Homo sapiens: one gene and its partners. The protein of the gene in region 1 purifies or fractionates together with the protein of each later gene. This does not show direct contact. Each region holds a gene or a part of one and is shown on either strand. Other genes may lie near its edges.

Region 1 (5,304 bases):
TTTCTGTTTCTCTAATAGGCCTCTCCCTTGCATGGGAAAGCTAAGTATGCTCTGTGGAAGCACACTGAGTTTTCCAGTGTGTTTTACTCTGGGAAGAGTCCTTTCCTTTAGTTCTCTCTCCTTTTCCATTGTAGAAGTCTGCTCTGTTTCCTATGCCTACACAAAGAATCATCTTCCCTTCGCTTCTGTAGAGAATGGTTCCAGGGTCTTTTACCCAGAGGCAACCATCCCCAGCGGCTCTGCATACCTGGGGAGGGTATAGGGTGTGTCTGGCCCAGCCAACAGGCAGTCCAGTAATGACTACCCTGCTCTCTAACGGTGCTGATTCCAAGCTGGGGGTTTGGAAGGAAAGCTTGTACCTCTACAACAGGTCTCTCCTTCATCTGTTTTGGGTTAGGGATTTGCTCTAATTTGTTTGCTCCACCAATCTGGCCCAAGCTGTTTTTTATGCTTTATACCAGTTCCTCAAAATGTCTGGTCCACTGGTGATATCCTTTCTTCACGTGCAAAGCTATTATTGATGTTCTAGTCTGTTCTATCTCATTCCTTAGAGAATCATTTTAGCAGGATTTTAGGAGGGGGCCTAGCGTTCACATACTAACAAAAAAAAAATTAGTGTTATTCTTTCATCTTAAAACCCACTAACAGTTCCCTGTTACCCAAGGGAGCAAGTGTGGCTCTACAGCACGATGCATGTTCTTTTCTCATCTGGCCATTACTCTGTCCACAGCTTCATCACCCATCAGTCTTCCAGGGCTCCTGACCCTATGAAACATTTCCCCACCAACTGCAATTGTGCCCAGAGGCACAAGTACAACATGTCGTCTCTTCCCTTTAGGTCATGGTGCAATTTCCTCTGCCTAGAAAACCTTTCCTTCCCAATTTCATCTGGAAAACTATTGTAGCCCCTTTCAATGCTTTCTGAAGCAAGAATATGAAATGAAAAAGATGAGATGTAAATCAATACAAAACGCCTACCCTGTCTTTGAAACCCTGTGCAGTGCCACTCCTCCAGGGCGCTCCTAACCCCATCCCTCAGTCATCCTTCCCAGCCGTGCTGTGTTGTGCACGACAGCATGGCCAGCCCAGGGCCCAGGAGTCCTTGTCCCCAGACCGACGCTCCTTTACGCTGGCGTATTAATTTCAAACTATGGATTCTCAGGCCCCACCTAAGGAATTATAATTCAGTTGGCTTCACATGGAACCTAGAAATTCATATTTTCAAAAAGTATCCTGGCAATTCTGTCAAGTGGTCAGGTATGGGACCCACTTCGCTATATCGCACCAGCCCCACCCTTTAGCCCTGCCATTCTTCCATTGGGGACAGGGTCTCACCGCACTGTCAGGAATCCCTGAGCATTACTCAGCAAAGGCTGGAGGCCTCACTGTCCTCCCTGAATGCAAGTGAGCCAACCACAGCCAAGTGTCCACATGGCACAGCCGCATGTCTCCTTGGGGACTAAGGCCCCACACTGAGTGAGTGGAAGAAGGACTCCTAGGAAAAAGGAAACTTGGGGCCTTGGGTTGCGGGGCTAACAGAGCAGCTGCCCAGACCCAGCTCAGGCAGACAGGAATTACCACAGTCTGATTGGAGAAGGGGTCCGTGTAGTTGATCCTCTGGGTGGTGCAATTCATGTCACCCGGCTGGCCAGGGCTTGTCAGAGGAGGAATGACCTCGTAATGGTGCTTACAGCTGAGCAACTGGGCCTGACCGGGGTACAAGGCAATACCTGGGGGCACAAACAGGAAAAGCAAGTGTCAGAAATCACACTCCTGACCACATCCCTGAAATCATCTCACACCTACCAACAACCTACGTTCTGGACTCCCTGGAGGACTGCAGGGAAGGGAGAAGAAAAGGGTTTCAGAGGGTGAGGAGCCACATCCCCTGGCCTCAGAAAGCCCCGCTGTAGCAGAGGGCACAAGCCCCTCCTCAGTAAGCCCCTGGCCAACCTGGGATCCAGCCGCCCTGATGCCCACATCAAAACCCACTCCACCTCAGAGCCCCGCTCCACACCCTCCGAAGGAGTGTCTCTTGACTCAGCCCCTGTGCCACCCCTCTGGGCCAACACCCACCTGCAGAATCACTGGGAGGCTCTAAACTGTGGAACTCCTCAGAACTCATTTTGTCTCTTAGACTGGGAGCCCCAAGTGTGCAAGTCACATCCCAAGAGTCCCTCCCTCTTCCCAGCCCAGGCACCTCTACTGACAGTAGCTGTCCAGCCTCAAGGGCAGCAATGCTAAGACAGCAGCACATGGCATCAGAGACAGACAGACTTCAGAGACACTAAGACACCAGACAGAGAAAGTAAAACGTACAGATAAAGAAGACTCAAGCAGACACACAGAGAAGAGGGACAAACACAAGACAGGAAGAGATGGGCAGAGGAGCCATGACCAGCACACCTGACTCTGCTGGAGGCTGGCAGGAAGCCCCAGAGAGAGGGCACCCGGACTCTGGCTCTGCCATGTGAGCAGGCCCTCCCACAGGTTACTCAGGGGCATCTGTGGGCAGAACAGGTGGCACACACTGGGTGGACAGGGCCCAAGTCACACAGCTCATGCCTCCTCATTTACTCTACAGCCCCTAGAACATCCAGTGCCAGCCCTGCAGCCCAGAGCAGATAGCTTGCTCTATAGCAGAGTGGACTCCCCACTCAGGGACCAGACACCCCAGTGAGACAGGTATACCCAGTGTGGCCTGGGAGTCCCTCTCCAGGCAGGGTTGAATGGCCTCGCCTCCCCTGCCATCCTCCCCACCCCACAGTCCAGCCTTGACTCCTGCTTCTCCTCATCCCTGCCCTCTGGCCCCAGCCAAGTTAGTCTCATCCTCTCCAGAGAAGCCCTCTGCCTCCCTAGACACCCCTTCGCTCTGCTGATCCCCATCCCAAAGACACTCTCTTCCCATCTATGTGCTTTTCGAGGCCCATCTCAAATCCTACCTCTCTGCCAAGCTTTCCCTGACCCCTCTAGTAGCCTGCAGTAGCTGCTCCAGGCTCTGTCCATTTCTGTCCTCAGCACGTAACACACTCCCAACAGCAGCTCCTTGGGCATAGACTCTATACCTAGACTATGCTTGGTTGGACTCCTCTGCCCTGCCCGTAGTACCACAAATACAACGGCAGCTCAGGGAGTATCTGCCAGCTGACACCCTAGATCTGGGGCCCTGATGCCTGGCCCAGGGGCAGGCTCTACCTGGGGCATCATAGCGATCCACTTCCTTGTAAGACACAGACATGACAGGGTGCTTGAGTTTCTCACGAAAGTCTGTGATGGTCCGGTAGACCAGGAAGACGGCCACAGCCATGAGCAGCAGGTAGATGAAGATGAGTAGGACCGAGAAGACGTTCTTCAGGCAGGCCTTGCTGAAGCGGATGCTGCTGGAGGCGGACTCGCTGTCCAGGCCTGACAACAACAAAACACCATGTGACCCAGGGCACAGGGACAAGGTACAGACAGAGATGGCCAGCAACCTCCAGGCCCTTGCCTGCCTCACCAAGGAGGTGAAGTCACCTGCACGCCCAACCTTTCCACCTCACCCCACAAATCATAACAAAGGGCACCTGTAAACATTTACTACACAGCTTCTCTGCCAGGTAGAGGACACCAAGCTGAAGGAGACTTATTCATTGTCTTTAAGGAGTTTACTCTCAAAAGAAAAAAGATAAAAGATAAAAAACGATAAAAATGTTAAAAGAAAAAGCAAAAAACAAACAAAAAGAACAGAAAAAAGGAGTTTACTCTCTAGAGGGATAGGCAGTTACAATCCAACAAGTGAGCTGGCCCCAACCTACCTCTCTGGCCTTATCCCTCACTGCTCCACTTCCCCAGTTCTCCCAGCTCTAGCTCCACCTCTACTCATCGACTTTCTGTTCTTCTGGAGTGCCCTTCTCAACCCGGGATTCCCTCACACTTACCATTCCCTCTGCTTGATTTTCTTTTCTTCCACAGCTGATGCTTCACTCATCCTAAGCCCCGAAAGCTTTTTGCTTGGCATCTGGCTTCCAACAGTGACAGAGTAGCTTGGTCACGCCATCCTTCCATGGAAGCATTTTAATTTAGAAAGACATTTTCTTGGCCAGGCGCAGTGGCTCAAGCCTGTAATCCCAGCACTTTGGGAGGCCGAGGCAGGAGGATCACCTGAGGTCGGGAGTTCGAGACCAGCCTGACCAACATGGTGAAACCCCTGTCTCTACTAAAAATACAAAATTAGCTGGGCGTGGTGGCGCATGCCTGTAATCCCAGCTACTCAAGAGGCTGAGGCAGGAGAATTGCTTGAACCCAGGAGGCGGAGGTTGCAGTGAGCCGAGATTACTCCATTGCACTCCAGCCTGGGCAACAAGAGCGAAACTCCATCTCAAAAAAAAAAAAAAAAGAAAAAAGAAAGAAAGACATTTTCTTGAGGAAGCCTCTCCTGACCCCTAACCTTTATTTGGGCACCTCTTCCTCAGTGTTCCCAGGGAGCCCTGTACGTCCCCTACTTCATCACTCTGCAATGTCATGTCTATACATCTTTTATCCTCCTAGGCTGTGAGTTCCATGAGGGCAGGGATGGGGCCAGTCTTATCCCTAACTGAATCCTTAGCCCTTCATGCTATGCCTGGAACATTCTGCATTTACATGGTGACTGATTGAACACGTCCTGATGCTATTGGTACAACACAACTCTGTCTCCCCTACCTCCCTCACAAAATCCTGAGGCTAGAAGCTAGATTAATCTCTGTTATGGACGAAACTGTATCCCCCACCCTCAAATTCAGGTTGAAGCCCTAACCCTCAATGTGAGTATATTTAGAGACAGGGACTTCAAGGATATAATTAAGGTTAAATGTGGCCATAAGGATGAGGCCTGATCCAATAGGACCAGAATCCTTATAAGAGGAGGAGACACTAGGAGCACATGCACACAGGAAAAAAGGCCATGTGAGGACACAATGAGAAGGCAGCCATCTGCAAGCCAAGGAGAAAGGCCTCACCAGAATTCAATCCTGCTGGCACCTTGATATTGGATTCTCGCTTCCAGAACTGTGAGAAATAAATTTCTGTTGTTTATGCCACTCAACTGTGGCATTTTGTTACAGCAGTCTGAGCTGACTAAGATACTCCCACAGGGCTCCCTGTGCCCTCTCTGCTCCTCAGCTGAAAATGGAGCTCCCTGAGAAGAAGTCCTATTTCCTCCACAGCCCAGCTGAGCACAAGGCTGAGAACAAGGGAAGCATCTGAACGTAAGCCCCAAAAGGTATCTGCTTGGCATCTGGCTTCCAACAGTGACAGAGTAGCAGTGTCACATCACCCTTCCACAGA
Region 2 (5,191 bases), on another chromosome or scaffold:
GATAAGACAGAAGGGTGGACTTCGTGAGAACCTGGCTTGCTTTCCAATTCCAAACCAGAAGTGACTTGGAGGGGAGCAAGGGGAGATGCCAATGACATGGTAGGAGCAAAGAGGAAAAAGGTCAGCCTCTAGCTAGGATCCCCCAAAAACTGAAGAACACGGAGAGCTGCAACCTTTAGGAGGTATCAAAGTGCCGGAAAGTCAAAGTGGGACATCGACCAATGTCTAGAGCCAACTGATGGATGTTGGGCAGCTAAAGAGGGAAGGGGCATGGGATAAGACCTGCCCTTCTTGCTTCTTGCCATTGGGCAGGCATTGGAGACCCTACTGCTGAATGGAGTGCTAACCCTGGTGCTAGAGGAGGATGGAACTGCAGTGGACAGTGAGGACTTCTTCCAGCTGCTGGAGGATGACACGTGCCTGATGGTGTTGCAGTCTGGTCAGAGCTGGAGCCCTACAAGGGTAAGAGGCCTATACTGGGGCTGCTTCCAATGCCTGTCCTTTAGAGCTTTCCCGGGCTTCCTCTCTAGCTTAACCCTGATCCTGGGGACCAGGTGCAGGAGGAGTTGTGGAATTGTCAAGGATGTCACACAGTGGACAGAAAGTCCAAGCGAGGGAGGGTCTGACCCAGTGCTGATGGAGATTAGTGGTGGGTGTCTGGTATGAGGATCTACTGCACTGACAAGGGTGTCCTACAGAGTGGAGTGCTGTCATATGGCCTGGGACGGGAGAGGCCCAAGCACAGCAAGGACATCGCCCGATTCACCTTTGACGTGTACAAGCAAAACCCTCGAGACCTCTTTGGCAGCCTGAATGTCAAAGCCACATTCTACGGGCTCTACTCTATGAGTTGTGACTTTCAAGGACTTGGCCCAAAGAAAGTACTCAGGTCAGAAATCAACATGTCATACTGCCCCATCCCCTACAGTTGGATAGTCCCCATAATTCGTCCTCTTGCACCCACCTACCCCTAGTTAGCTCTTGCTTGTGGAAAGTCCTCATCTCCCAGCTTGATGGCTTCCTCCCAAGTTTTCCAAATCATCTGATTTCCTCTTGTCTCTGCCATTCAGGGAGCTCCTTCGTTGGACCTCCACACTGCTGCAAGGCCTGGGCCATATGTTGCTGGGAATTTCCTCCACCCTTCGTCATGCAGTGGAGGGGGCTGAGCAGTGGCAGCAGAAGGGCCGCCTCCATTCCTACTAAGGGGCTCTGAGCTTCTGCCCCCAGAATCATTCCAACCGACCCACTGCAAAGACTATGACAGCATCAAATTTCAGGACCTGCAGACAGTACAGGCTAGATAACCCACCCAATTTCCCCACTGTCCTCTGATCCCCTCGTGACAGAACCTTTCAGCATAACGCCTCACATCCCAAGTCTATACCCTTACCTGAAGAATGCTGTTCTTTCCTAGCCACCTTTCTGGCCTCCCACTTGCCCTGAAAGGCCAAGATCAAGATGTCCCCCAGGCATCTTGATCCCAGCCTGACTGCTGCTACATCTAATCCCCTACCAATGCCTCCTGTCCCTAAACTCCCCAGCATACTGATGACAGCCCTCTCTGACTTTACCTTGAGATCTGTCTTCATACCCTTCCCCTCAAACTAACAAAAACATTTCCAATAAAAATATCAAATATTTACCACTAAGACTTCTGACTCCAATTTAAACCAGGAAAGGGATGGGGTGGATACCCCATTTTGCCCTCCCCCATCAACACCCAGTCCCAGATCCAAAGCCTCAGTCTTCAAGTATGGAGTTCAATGCCCGCCTCCGCTTGGCCACCGCACCCTGCTGCTGTTCCCAAGCCTCTCGCCGCTTTAGGAAGGTAGTCAAGGCCACATTTCGAGCCACATGGTGGCCGAAAGGGTCTCTTATCAGCTCCTGGTTCTGCTCCCCTGCAAAGGGAACCACTCATGTTTAGTACTACCATGCTCAAAGACAGACTCTACTTGACGTAAAGATCCCTCCATTTCCCCCAGACCCTGGGACTGCCACTGGGATAAAGTGAACACTTCACTTTCCAAAGAACAGAAGTCAGAGGGCAGGGTGAGGGCAGAGGACTACACAATCAGTCAGCGGGAGGGAAGGGGAAAGCAGACTGCTAAGAACCCATGAGCAAGACCACCCTTTGGAACTAAAGACTGTTGAATTTCAGTAGACTTCCCAGCTACCCAGTGATCTGGAGTAAGAGAGGGGAGAGTCTGGAAACATCAAAGAGAGGGGCTGGTACTCACCAAGCTCAGCAGCAATTTCCTTCCGGGCCCTCAAGGCTGCTCCACTCCAGATGGCATCTAGCACACGGCTGCCATGGCGACTACAGGCCAGAGCCACATATTGTCCCTGTATGGAGACAAGCAAAGTAGGTCTCCCTAGCAAAATCCACAAAAGTATTTTGGAGGCTTGTGGAGAGTGAATTTTCTGAAGAGTTTAAGGGCTGAATTAAAATAGTCTAGGAATTACATAGCCTTTTTGAGTCTGAAGGTACAGTCCAGGGAAAGCTCATATTCTCTAAATGGATGATGGTGGGGAATCAAGGCAAAAGCCAGAAATCTAACCTTTAGGTTCTGCAGCACACGGCGGCGCAGCTTGCGCGTCACAGAGGGGCTGGTCAGGATGGCATCGAGCACATGAGAGCCAGCGGGACTTTGGGCAAGGGACAGAAGCTGTGGTCCCGTCAAGGCACCCAGACTTCGAAGTACAAGACCAGGAGTGGAGAAGTGCAGCAGATGCTGGAGCAGTAGAGACCCAAGGACTGTCACATCCCCCAAGGCTCTGGCTGCGGCCATTGCCACCTGGCAGCGCAGAGATAAGAAATTAGGAGGCACCAACAAGCCAGGTGGATGAGCCCATCCCCAGAACACTGCCACCTCCACCTGGATGAAGTCACCACTCTCACCTCAGAAGTCAGACGCTTGCTAAACCCTGGGAGGCCTGACTCCCAATTAGTCACTGGCTTGGCCTCTCCCCTACCTCACCTGGTGCTCTGCAGGCACTGCCCCCTCCTCCTCCGTCAGTCCATAGTACACCTCATAAGCCATCAAAGTGGCAAAGAGAGGCACACAGGCCACTTGCCGGGATGAGGGCTCTGCACAGTGGAATGCCTAAAGGAGAAGACAGAATATGATGAACCTGAGAACTTCTCCGTCCCTTACCTCAACTTTAAGGGAACACCTTCAGGAAAGGAAAGAAGGCCCAACTCCACAAGAATGTTAGCTCCATGAAAGCAGATGTCATGCCTTGCTGTATCCCCAGCCTCTATCACATACAGGGGTTAATAAATGTTTATCCCTTAAATAAACTTCTCTCTTAGTTCTGGGAGACAATTTTTGTTCCAGGACTGTGAAATAACATTTGGCCTCAGCCGGGCACGGTGAGCTGAGATTGCGCCACTGCACTCCAGCCTGGGCAACAAGAGCAAAACTCCGTCTCAAAAAAAAAAAAAAAAATTAGCTGGGTATGGTGGCGGGCACCTATAGGCCTCATTTTCCCCCATTCCTGTGAACTCCTTGGGCATTAGACTTCCTGAGTCCAGAGGTACAAAAACTTAAGATTAGATAAGTCCTAAAAGGTAGAAGTTGAACTGAGGGCATAAACAGATTGTGGGTAATATCCACTCACCTCCAACAAGAGCTGTAGGACCTTGGCTTGGTAGGCCCCAACTCTGCGACAGGCCCCCACCAGGGCAATGACTACCCCTGGGTGGCCCTGGGCCAATACAGCTTCCAAGACAGGGCTCAGCTCCTCAAACACAGGGGACAGCTGATGGGAAACATGGAATGTAACTCTGGCATTCTGGTAATGGCGGACCACATTATTCAGAGAAATCTTCCCAACGAAAACAACTAAAAATGCTAGATAAAACATAAAAAGCATTGCCAGTATCAGGACTTTTGTTTGGCTAGATAAGGCCCAGGATAAGGGGGCAGTCTTAGAGGTGCCACCTCACAGGAAGGAACTTTAAGTGGCTCTTCCCTATGTGTAAGGGAGCACTAGGAGCAAGGGGAGACTAAAATTAAACTGCACTTCCACTCTAACACCCAATGCATGAGACCACAGGGAAGCCCACCTTAGTCCTAAGCAGCAAAGGAAAAGAGAAGCTATGGCAACAGCTCTAGCACTCATGTGGGCTTATAGCCAAGTACCAGAGTCTGGGTGGGCCATGGAACCTCAAGCTGTAAACCTGAATAAAGCCAGTTTCTTGCTGGTCCTCATACCTGAGAGAAGTCAAAACAAATCCTCACTAGAAGGTGGGCACCTTTATCCTAAGCTCTGGAAAACCTCAAAGAATAGCTTTTCAAGGGCAATGGCCAGCACAATGTCAAAGGTATATAGAGGCAGACAGACCATAAAATAAGGTCCAGTGATCAAGAATTAGCAGAAACAGATCCAGCTCAGGTTTCCAACTCACCAGCTCAGGGGTAGTGACTGCATCCAGTAAGCGCTGCAAAGGGAAGTTGGCAATGGGATGTGCAGCCAGGGTCTGCAGCTGCCCCTGCAAGTGCTCCTCAAAGAGGCTCTGGAGTCTTGGGGGCTCCAACACCAGCAGGACCTGCTCCAGGAGTCTGGAACTCGTCTGATCTCGGAGAAATAGCAGTAGGGGACTAGGGACAAGAAGGGCATCAGGCAGTCTTAACTCCATTTCATGCAAAATACAGTTGCACTACATCACCTCATTCATTTCACACAGCCCCGCCAACTTGGGTCGATCCTGAGGCCCTGACCATACCTGCCATCTACTGAGGAACCGCGAGTACTCAGGTAGCCAATCACAGCATTGCAGAGATGAGCGCAAAACTGGGGAAGTTTGCGGTGTAAAACCTGTAAAGCCACTTGAAGACAGAAGCTGGAGATCTTATCAGTGATAAACACTGTGGAGAGAGGGCAGAAATAAAGCGGCTTTCCCAAAATCCAGACAACCTGCGTAACCTCAAACTTTAGGCAACAAGATACAGGGCACTATGGACACAAAGGGACTATACAAAGTGCTCTGAACGTCAAACCAGACCAGGTTTGAAAAGAAGAGGAATAACCTGAGGTAAGGGCCTTGCTTGGTGGTAAGATGACCTCCAGACAAGTAGATACGAGACCATCCTCCTACTTCCCTCCTTACCTGCAATGTCCTTCAGAAAGGAGGAGCTCAGGTCCTGAAGGCGATTCAAAAAGGTTTCAGGGACTTCAAAATCAGCTG
Region 3 (5,304 bases), on another chromosome or scaffold:
ATGGCAGGTGAAATGCACTGGTTTAGAACTTCTGATGTCTTTCAAACCACTCTAGCCAGTATAGCCCCAGTATTTACCATGACAAAATTTGACAGAGAAATGTTACTTCTTTTGAAAGGAAGAAAACTGAGTTATACCAAGAGTTAGGTCTTCAAGCCAGAGATTTGAGATTTCACTATGTAATGAGTATCACAGCCAGAAATAATATGATTATCATGAGAATGGAGTATTTGAAAGCTGAGATAACTCCAGAGTGTCTTCTGATATTAGATTATCATAATTTAAACTCACAGCGATGGCTGTTCCGGGAACTCTCTTCACAATTGTCTGGAGAGGGTCAACTTGTTAGAAACCCTTTAATTTTTTGAGTTTAGAGCTATAGAAGCACTCCTGCAATACTGGATCAACACCCTTCAGGGGAAACTTAGCCTTTTCCAGCCACTGATCCTCAAGACGCTGGAAGCTTTGGTGGACCCCAAACATTCTTCTATAGACAGAAGCAAACTCCACATTTTACTACAGAATGGCAAAAGTCTATTAGAGTTAGAAACAGATATTAAAATTTTCAGAGTCAATTTTGGAGATCCTGGATGAGAAAGAGTTGCTAGAAGAGCTCTATCAAAATGGAGTGACCCCCGAGTCTTTGAAAAGAGCAGTACTGGGACTGACCATGCAGAGGAGATAGAGTTGCTGATGGAAAACTACTACCGACTAGCTGACGATGTCTCCAATGCAGCTTAGGAGCTTACGGTACTGACTGATGATTCACAAAGTATTATTTTCATCAATCTGGACAGCCACTGTAACGTGATAATGAAGTTGAATCTACAGCTGACCATAAGAACCTTCTCTCTTTCGCTCTTTGGAGTAATGGAAGTTGCTTTTGGAATGAGTTTGGAATCTTCCCTTGAAGAGGCCCATGGAGTGTTTTGACTGATTACAGGAATTATGTTCATGGGAAGTGGCTCAGCTGGAGGCGCCTGCTTTCATTCCTTGGACAACAGCTAGAAGCTCCATTGCCTCCTATGATAGCCTCCTTACCTAAAAAGATTCTTCTGGCAGATAGAAGCGTGGAACAAAGAACAGTCTCAGACCTGATGCACTTGGATCAGGCAGGAGTATCCTAACAAACCATGAGGAACAACCCTATGGACACTGAAGTTTTTTGTTTTTTTTTTGTTTTTTTTTTTTTTTATAATCACAGTTAACTTCTGATACTTTTATTATTTTCTTGTATGGAGTCAGACACTTGAAAAAAATTAATATCTGATGACAAAATATTTTGGCAGTCACAATACTAGAACTTGATTGCATTTCCAGAATTCTGAGTTAAAGAAACAAAGTGTTTGCTTTGTAACAGGCCAAAATTCTATTTCCTGCAAACTTTAAATGCTGTTTTTATAGACATGATGTGAGGCAACAGAAGAACAGACAGTTGTATAGATTTTATTTAATTTATACATAACAAGAAAAGTATAATTTCAGGCTGAATGAAGCCTAGGAGCTTGACAAACCCATAGGAAGCCATAGTTCTTTGTTACCACAGGGAATTACGTCCAAGTGAATTTCCTGATTCTCAGGTGACTAAAAAGCTAGCACTCTATGTATTAACCTTAAAACAAACTCTGAAAGTTTATGCTTTAAAAAACAAACTTTGACATAACATTATTTTCTTAGATTTGGCCCCCCTTTTATATAAGATGAATAAAAATAAATAATTTTTTTAAAAAGACCCAAATGAACTTGTATTAAAAGGATTTGTATCCAGAATATAAAATCCAGGACATAAAAAGAACACTAAAAACTCAGTGACAAAAAAACACAGTTTGAAAAAAAATAAGCAGAAGATTTAAACAGACACTTCATCAAAGAAGATACAAGGACAGCAAATAAGCACATGGAAAAATACTCAACACCATTAGTCATTACAGAAATGTAAACTGAAACCATAATGAAACACTATTACACACCTATTAGAATGGCTAAAATTAAAATGACTGACATTAAATATGGGCAAAAATATGAAGCAACTGGAACTTTCATACACTGCCAGTGGAAATATAAAACACTACACCTACTTTGGAAAACAATTTGGCAGTGTGTTAAAATGCTACACACACAACTAATATATATGATCCAGCCACCCCATTCCCAGGTATCCAATCAAGAAAAATGAAAGCATATTTTCATAAAACACATATACCAATGCTCAGAGCAGCTTTAATTTATTTTATTTATTTGTTTGTTTTATTATTTTTTCGAGACAGAGTTTCGCTCTTGTTGCCCAGGCTGGCGTGCAGTGGCAAGATCTTGGCTCACCGCAACCTCTGCCTCCTGAATTCAAGCGATTCTCCTGTCTCAGCCTCCCGAGTAGCTGGGATTACAGGCATGCACCACCATGCCCAGCTAGTTTTGTATTTTTAGTAGAGACAGGGTTTCTCCATGTTGGTCAGGCTGGTCTTGAACTCCTGGCCTCAGGTGATCCACCCACCTCGGCCTCCCAAAGTGCTGGGATTACAGGTGTGAGCCACGGCACCTGGCCTAAGAGCAGCTTTATTTGTAACAGTCAAAGTGGAAATAACCCAAATGTCTATCAAACACATGACTAGATAAACAAAATGTGGTATACCCATACAATGAATATTATTTGTGGGGTTTTTTTTTCGAGACAGTCTCGCTCTGTCACCCAGGCTGGAGAGCAGTGGCACAATCTCGGCTCACTGCAACCTCTGCCTCCCATGTTCAAGCAATTCTCCTGCCTCAGCCTCCCGAGTAGCTGGAATTACAGGCACATACCACCACACCCAGCTAATTTTTGTATTTTTAGTAGAGACAAGGTTTCACTATGTTGGTCAGGCTGGTCTCGAACTCCTTACCTCGTGATCCACCCGCCTCAGCCTCTCAAAGTGCTGGGATTACAGGCGTGAGCCACCGTGCCTGGCCCAATGGATATTATTTGGAAATAAAAAAAAAACTAATGATACATACAACACCATGAATTTCAAAATAATTATCCTGAATAAAGAAAGCCATACAAAAACAGAGTATATACTATATAATTCCATTTATATAAAGTTCTAGAAAATTAAAACTAATTTATAGTGACCAAAAAATGCTCAGTGGTTGCCTGAGGACACATGGAGTGATGGTACAGTGAGTCACGAGAAAACTAACAGAGGTGGTGAAAACATCATTATCTTAATTGTGTTCATGGGTTCATGGTGTACACAAATGTCAAAGTTGTATACTCTAAATACATGTGGTCTATCATATCAATTGTATCTCAAAAATAGCTGTATAGGCCAGGTACAGTGCCTCACCTGTAATCCCAGAACTTTAGGAGGCCAAGGTGAGCGGATCACTTGAGGCCAAGAGTTCTAAGCAGACGGAGCAACACGGCAACACTCCATCTCTACAAAAAATACAAAAACTAGCTGGGTGTGATGGTGCATGCCTTTAGTCCCAGCTACTCAGGAGGCTGAAGTGGGAGGATCACTAGAGCCCAGGAGGCGGAGGCTGCAGTAAGCCGAGATCACACACTACACTCTAGCCTGGGCCACGGACCAAGGCCATGTCTCAGGGCAAAAAAAAAAAAAAAAAAAGCTGTATAAAAAATAATTTACATAGAAAGTCCATTGTTGTAAACAGTAAAAACCTAATTAAAAATAAATACATACATACATGAGGACATTCTCACTAAAAAGAAAGAAATTAGTCCTGCCTCAAAAAAAAATTAACAATCATACCCTCACTTAGCTGGGAATCAGGTGTTCATAGGAAGCAAAATATATCAAGAGCATTCAAAGACTTGCCACTTGGTGGTGCTAAACTGACTGTATAAAATTCAATTCAACAAACTTTTATGAAGCAATTATGTGCCAGACATCATAAAGAACAGAGAAATTAAAAGGTATTAGAGTTCCTTGCTTGTCTGTACCTGGCAAAATTATTGAAAAGGTAAAGAAGGAATATTCTAAGTGTAAAAATACTACAAAAAAAAGGAGGAAAGTTTTCCTTTTGGGATAAAAATGTCTCATGCCCTCCAGGCTCTTATTTATTCTTAAATATTTGCTAAGATGCCCAAGCAGATAAGTACATTTATAAAACTTCCAATGATGGCCTGCTGAAAGCAACAGAAACTGTATTTTGTTTTTCTCCTCTAGCAAAGGAGCTATGTCAGATATACCTTATTAAAAGAGTTCTGGTGACCACAGCAAACATTTTAGAATAAATTTTCTCACCTCTAATTTAGCAAAAGTTTTAATTAAAAAGCAAAAATGAGGCAGAAAAACAGATAAATTCAACTTTTAGACAGAATGAACTTTTGCACAATCCAACTCAAGAACATCCTTCCTGACACAAAGAGCTGGAAAAAATAAGGAAGTTTCACAATACAGTAGTAATTTTTTATACTGTCCCTACACTTAATACTGAATTTTTACTTATATTATGATTATTATAATTTTTATTTATTTCCAAAAATGGAAGATAAAGGAAAAATTCAACCCAAATATTTTAAATGTAGCAGTAAGTTCAGGGTAAAATTATTGCCCTAAATCATTCTCCAAACTTGGAAACCCATCACCTATCATACACAACATGCATTCTTAACTTTAGCAATTATGTGAACTTACAGGCTAATATAACAACCAAAAAAGGTACAAAAGTTCAGTTTCTTTCAAAACTATTTGGCATACAGATGATAATTTGAGCATATGGTTCCAGAAAGCATCCCCAGGAAATGCGAGACTGAGCATCCTAATGGGCTCCACACCCAAATATCTAAGCACCTACTTGGTATCTCCATTTCAATAAGGCATCTTAATCTCATGTGTTCTATCTAAACCTGCTCTTCTTCTATATTCCCAATTCTGTCAAAGATATCTCATCCACCCACTTATTCTAAATGCTTCTTTCACCATCCAGACCCTATAACCTAAGTCCCTCGAACCTTCTCCTCTGACACTGGCCCCTTATCATTTCTAGCCTAAGTCACTAAAATAACATTCTGATCTCTCTTCTTCTGATCTAGTCACCTTCCAATAATCTGCCTAAGGTGCATAATGTATAACCACTGCCCAAACTAACCTTTACAAAATGTCCATCTGGTTATACCACACAGGGGCTTAAAAATCTTCTGACTTCACCCTTTACCTCTACAGTGAGGCTATACTTCCTGATACTCCCCAACACATAAAACATTTCTGCCTTGGGCCATTGTGAACTCTGTTACCCAAAAGCTTTGTACCTTTTTTCAGGTGTATTCTGTTCCATCTACCTGGAACACCCTTTTATCCTTTCTCT
Region 4 (5,304 bases), on another chromosome or scaffold:
AAGTACCGAGGTTCCTTCTGACTTAAAAGGTTAATGTTTTATTCAGGAACCAATAACAATAATTCCTCATCAAAGACAGCTAACTTAGTAAGGTCAATTGACAACCACCTCTAACAACAGAGGTGGCAAACAGATAAAAATTGTTTAACAGAGAAAAATATTATTTCAGGGTTCAGAATGATGTTGAATACTAGGAGACTCAAACTTGTAATCCTTGAAACTGACAGCTAGTTCCCTTCAATACTTTAGGGGTTCATAGAAGTATTAACAGAAATGGGAAACATGGTGATATTACAACTATAAAGACTTGACATTTTTGTTAAAAGAGAAAGTTCAAAGACAGTTAAGGGGAGTGTTAAATAATGCTGACTGGGGGGAAATGATATAGATACTTGCTTTTCAAATGAAAATCATGGACAAGTGGTAGTAACCATCCCATCTGAACAGAGTAATGTAATATAATTAGATACACAGTTTACAACGAAATAAGACTAAATTCTTAAAATTAGTTTGAAAAAAACCTGCAGTTTGTTTACATTAAAAGTCATACTTTACACCAGACAAAAACTCAATGCAGTGATGTTAACATGCTACTGTCTTCTAACAGAGATGGCCACCCTGAAAGACCCAAATAATGGTGCTGGAAAGGACACTGTCAAATACTGTCAGGTAGTTTTGCTACTGAGGCAGCCACTCATCCAGCACAAGGACTATAAAAGCAAATCAATCCTTTTAACAGAACAAGAACACAGTTACAGGTGCTACCACATTAACAGACTGTGAAAGTACAAAGTCTTTAGTGATTGTGCCTTGGGAAATAAATGGGTCAAGGAAAATAAAATGAGAAACAAACAAAGGATGTATGGAAAACTAGAGGTTAAAGGATACTATATGAACAACAGAAATTTTATAAAACAAAAATCTAAAAATGAAATACTTGACAGTGTCCCTTTGACATATATAAAAGAGGGCACAAATAATGTTTTTGTTTTAAAAAATATTTTAACAACAGTTTTAATAGAAAAAAAATCAACTGACTTGAATTAAGCCAGTGTTCTTGACACCCACTGGGCCAAGAGCATTAAAACAAAACAAGACCGGAGAAGTTAATAAACACAGCTAAAGACAAAATTGGACAAAATAAAACAAAAGAAAACACAAAGTGAATAAGCATCCAATCAGGCAAACATGGACACAACCACCCTGAAAAGGTCTAGCCGTTGCAACTCAGTGGCATCCCCATCACCTAAAAAATGGTAGTGGCTTCTCCCCACCCCAGTGAGCTAATATTCAACATTCTGCTGATCTTATAAGTATTATTTGGTCCAATCTGAAGAAGGTCTTTTTAAACTAAAACTAGTCTAATGAAATTACACCTCAGGAATATGGAGGTGAAATTTTCTATTTTTAGTATTGTAATAGGATCTGGGCAAATTTTGCAAATATGTTGCCATCTGGATAAAAGTTATTAAATATAGATGCCTTTTTACTTACCAAGGCATTCCTTTCCCACTCCTCTTTAGTTTTAATAACTTGATTATAGTTTTGTCATGGCGCGTGGACCTGTCCAGTCAATTGTGTGTTTCAGTGCCCTTTGGTAAAGAGACTGTACTTAGCACACACACAGATACACATAATTCACAACAGCTGAGAAAGCTTGAGGGATCTGGGAAACACAAAACACCAAGAACAATGCAAAACAAATAGATTACTGCTGCATATCACTTCAAGTTTTTTAAGGGGAAAAAAAAAACACCTAAAAATAAATGCATCAAAGTATTTTTTAAAATACAGAAACGTGTACTTCTGGATGACTGATATTAATTTCCTTCCTAGCAGTCTTTTCAAGATGTTTTTGCTTCCCCTTAATTGTGACTCAAAGCTAATCAAATTGAGAGAAATGTAAGTTATGGCCCAAGGCCCTGCATTCACATCTACCTAACATCACATGCACAGGTTGGATGTAATTCAGATGCTCCAGTTTTGTTAACTGTTAATAACACAGAATTATACAAAGTTTTGCACAGCATCACATGTAATGACACATATGCTATATGCAATCAGGTAGAAAAACCGTATTTGCAGAATGGTTTAATAGATAGGTGTCAGGAACATGGTGGAAGCAGAGTTTCATGAGTGCACCTGTGCCAGAGTCCTCTACCTGTCACTGTGCTGTGAAAGTACTGCAATGAGTGGAGTTTCATATGCCTGCTGTGTATAAATTAGCTTTCATTTCCACATTGTAAGCTGGCACACTGAATTAGGGGAGCCTGGCAGCTGTATAAAAATCCTGATTAAGAGATCAAACTAGAGGATCTAAAGTGAATTTTTAATCTCTGAAATTAAATTCACTGGCTCCCATGTCTGGATAAGAATTATTGCCCCTAATGCCCCAACGTGCAATAGTCTGTGTGAATCAGTGATTCACATCCTTTAAAATAATTATTGCTTAAGCAAGCCATTTAGAGTAGATATGGGCTATGTGGCTGGATAGAAACACACTCAAAAAGTTAGACTAGACGGAAACAAGCCTTTCATTTCACTGATAAACCTACATAAATACACGATCGAAAGGGGCAACAGGTTCATAGCAGCTAACACCCTAAACCAACTCTGAAGCATCAAGACGTGGTTTCTTACTAAAACAAATCAGCTGTTTTTGTATTTTCCTCTTAAAATTAAGGCAATGAAATGGCTACAGTTCCTAAGGTTATTTTTACGGAACAAAAATATACATGTATTTTCCTCCTCAAGTTCAGGCATCAGAGTATGATTAGTGACTTGTATTACACAAAACCTGCAGCACTGGGTTGATGTGAGAGAGAGAGAGAAAAGAAAGAGAGAGACAGAAAGCAAGAAAAGCAAGAAAGCAAGCAAGCAAGAAAGCAAGCTAAGAAAAAGCCAACAAACCCCTGGTGATGTTTCCCCTTCCTGCTGAATTATAAAACCCAATCATCAAAGGGAGGAAAAGCTAGAAAGCACAAAACCTCTTAAGAGTTTTCAATGTCTCTTTCATTGATTCAAAACTTTTGGGGTGACGAAAGGGAGAAGCTTATTAACATGAAGACTCCTGGGCCCAACAACCAGACATTCTGACTCTGAAGGTCTACAGTTGGGCCTAAGAATCTGCCTTTTCACCAGCTCCTCAAGTGATGCAGGCGATCTATGGAGATTTTGAGAAACACTGCCTAGCATATATCCATTTCATATTTAATGACAAAAATTCTAAACTTTGGCTAGCCACCTATGTTAAAAGGAAAAAAGGCACTGCATATGTATTTCGTGGTGCCCATATCTGTTTGCACATATATGGAATTTCATTTTGAAAATTTTAAATCACCATTCAGAATCTAAAAGACATATATATGACAGATTGTGGCTAACACTTAACAGCAGAAGCTGATGCCAAGTTGACCTCTCCTGTTTCACTGTATTACATACATATCAAAGTTTCAGGCTCTCCAAAATCCAAAATGGCCAAATGAACTGAGGAATAGGACAAGACTCAAGTCAACTTTCAGCAATTCAGTGCACTTTGCAGAAAGGATCTAAATTAAGCATAAAGTTCTGTTGTTTATTTTACACAAAGGAGACCACCAACATTTGCCATAAATTCTTCTAAACTCTTTAAGAAGGCCATCTTCTGCTTCCGATCCAGCGTAGGAGGAGTGCTGCTTGCAGTGAGCTTGTTGAAGGCATCTGCTAATCTCTGGTAAATAACTGGGTCTTGCTGACTTGATAGTAATGTTTCGACCAGTTCAGAATATTCAGCCTATTGAAGAGATAAAGTATACACAAGTATCCTCCTTAGAATATCATACAAGTAGATCTTATCAGTTACTGGACTGTGGGGTTCTAAAAGGCAGGGACACATTTTTAAGAGTTAACATTTAGAATAATTCAGCATTTAAGTACTACTGTTTGAAAACCTTTTACATGGATTAATTCATCTATCATTTACAACAATGCTTCGAGACAGGTACTGTTTCTATTCCCATTCCAGAGGTGAAGGTTTCGACACTCAGTGAGGTGAAGTGATATGGCCCAGATCAAGCAAGAGTCCACCAATCTAGCCCCAAGACCCATGTGATAATCAACTTTGTTGTGCTGCCTCTTCAAAGCACATTATTCCTATTTATGTTGCGTTTGACACATAATCTAAGTCTGCAATAGTTCCCCAGAGGTTAATAGAGATATCTGGTCCACCCAGTTCTGAGGACAGCAATGTGCACAAAGACAGGACAGGCAGGAGTCTTTTGGGAGGACGGGGCGGAGAAATATATTCCAGTGCCTTCTCCAAGTGGAGCAGGGCACTCTGAAAGCTCCAAACCAGCACTGTGCCCAGCAGCTCTTAGAGAAAGGGCAGGAAGAGGACTTTAGTAAATATAGGAATATGGGAAATTTTCTGTTTTTAATACTCTATTATAAAGCCTTATAAAGGAAAGTGGAAGAAGGTGTGGGCTTAAGGGAAATTCAACCAGGACAGAGGTAAGCTCTCAAAAAAAGCTGGCCTGGCCAAGCATAGTGGCTCAGGCCTTTAATGCCAGCACTTTGGGAGGCTGAGGAGGGATGACTGTTTGAGCCCGGGAATTTGAGACCAGCCTGAGCAACACAGTGAGATCCCACCTCTACAAAAAATTTAAAAATTAGGCAGTTGTGGTGGTGCACAGCTGTAGTCCCAGCTACTTGGGAGGCTGAGATGGGAGATCGCTTGAGCCCAAGAGGTTGAGGCTGCAGTGAGCCATGGTTGCTCCACTGCACTCCAGCCTGGGCAACAGAGTGAGATCCTGTCTCACTGCAACCTCTGTTTCCTGGGTTCAAGTGATCCTCCTACCTCAGCCTCCTAAGAGCCTGGGACTACAGGCATGCACCACCATCCCTGGCTAATTTTTGAATTTTTAGTAGGGACAGGGTTCTGCAATGTTGAGCAGGCTGGTCTCAAGCTCCCAGCCTCAATCAATCCACCCACCTTGGTCTCCCAAAGTGCAAAAATTACAAGCATGAGCCACTGCACCTGGCATGCTGTAATTTTTCATTGGCTTCTTGGGATATCATGATAGACCAAAATGGTGAAACCAAATGTTAATTACATTTGGAAAAGAAGGATAAGGTGCAGCATCCCAATCCCCAACCATGGAGCCAGAGTGGCTCCCCTAATTGCCTTATCAAAGGGACAGTCCTGTTCACAGGGGACCAAGTATAATCTCCTATCATTTCCCTACTCATGAGAAATGGTAGAGGTGGCAAGGCATGGTGGCTCACACCTGTAATCCTAGGCACTTTGGGAGGCCGAGGCGAGTGGAT

What was found. Proteins that work in one complex are often made in the same cells at the same time.
Region 2: the proteins of PACC1 (region 1) and NOP9 purify together in Homo sapiens (co-immunoprecipitation; 3 studies listed by BioGRID and IntAct, with this or other methods). This does not show direct contact.
Region 3: the proteins of PACC1 (region 1) and TBC1D15 purify together in Homo sapiens (co-immunoprecipitation; 3 studies listed by BioGRID and IntAct, with this or other methods). This does not show direct contact.
Region 4: the proteins of PACC1 (region 1) and XPO4 purify together in Homo sapiens (co-immunoprecipitation; 3 studies listed by BioGRID and IntAct, with this or other methods). This does not show direct contact.

The regions. Positions count from the first base shown.
Region 1 is NC_000001.11:212,383,696-212,388,999, forward strand, and holds part of PACC1 (proton-activated chloride channel), read right to left. Parts: intron 3,406-5,304; coding exon 3,196-3,405; intron 1,731-3,195; coding exon 1,579-1,730; intron 1-1,578. UniProt on the Homo sapiens protein: Chloride channel gated by pH that facilitates the entry of chloride ions into cells upon exposure to extracellular acidic pH. Involved in acidosis-induced cell death by mediating chloride influx and subsequent cell swelling.
Region 2 is NC_000014.9:24,301,645-24,306,835, reverse strand, and holds part of NOP9 (nucleolar protein 9), read right to left. Parts: coding exon 5,114-5,191; intron 4,872-5,113; coding exon 4,730-4,871; intron 4,605-4,729; coding exon 4,412-4,604; intron 3,855-4,411; coding exon of another isoform or gene 3,846-3,854; exon of another isoform or gene 3,769-3,845; intron 3,763-3,768; coding exon 3,622-3,762; intron 3,105-3,621; coding exon 2,979-3,104; intron 2,796-2,978; coding exon 2,559-2,795; intron 2,344-2,558; coding exon 2,238-2,343; intron 1,899-2,237; coding exon 1,741-1,898; 3' UTR 1,204-1,740; coding exon of another isoform or gene 1,071-1,203; 3' UTR 890-1,070; coding exon of another isoform or gene 699-889; 3' UTR 463-698; coding exon of another isoform or gene 313-462; 3' UTR 1-312. Other genes in the region: lipid transferase CIDEB, read left to right, coding at 313-462, 699-889, 1,071-1,203.
Region 3 is NC_000012.12:71,845,054-71,850,357, reverse strand, and holds part of TBC1D15 (TBC1 domain family member 15), read right to left. Parts: intron 2,067-5,304; exon of another isoform or gene 1-2,066. UniProt on the Homo sapiens protein: Acts as a GTPase activating protein for RAB7A. Does not act on RAB4, RAB5 or RAB6.
Region 4 is NC_000013.11:20,780,148-20,785,451, forward strand, and holds part of XPO4 (exportin-4), read right to left. Parts: intron 3,773-5,304; coding exon 3,575-3,772; 3' UTR 1-3,574. UniProt on the Homo sapiens protein: Mediates the nuclear export of proteins (cargos), such as EIF5A, SMAD3 and isoform M2 of PKM (PKM2). In the nucleus binds cooperatively to its cargo and to the GTPase Ran in its active GTP-bound form.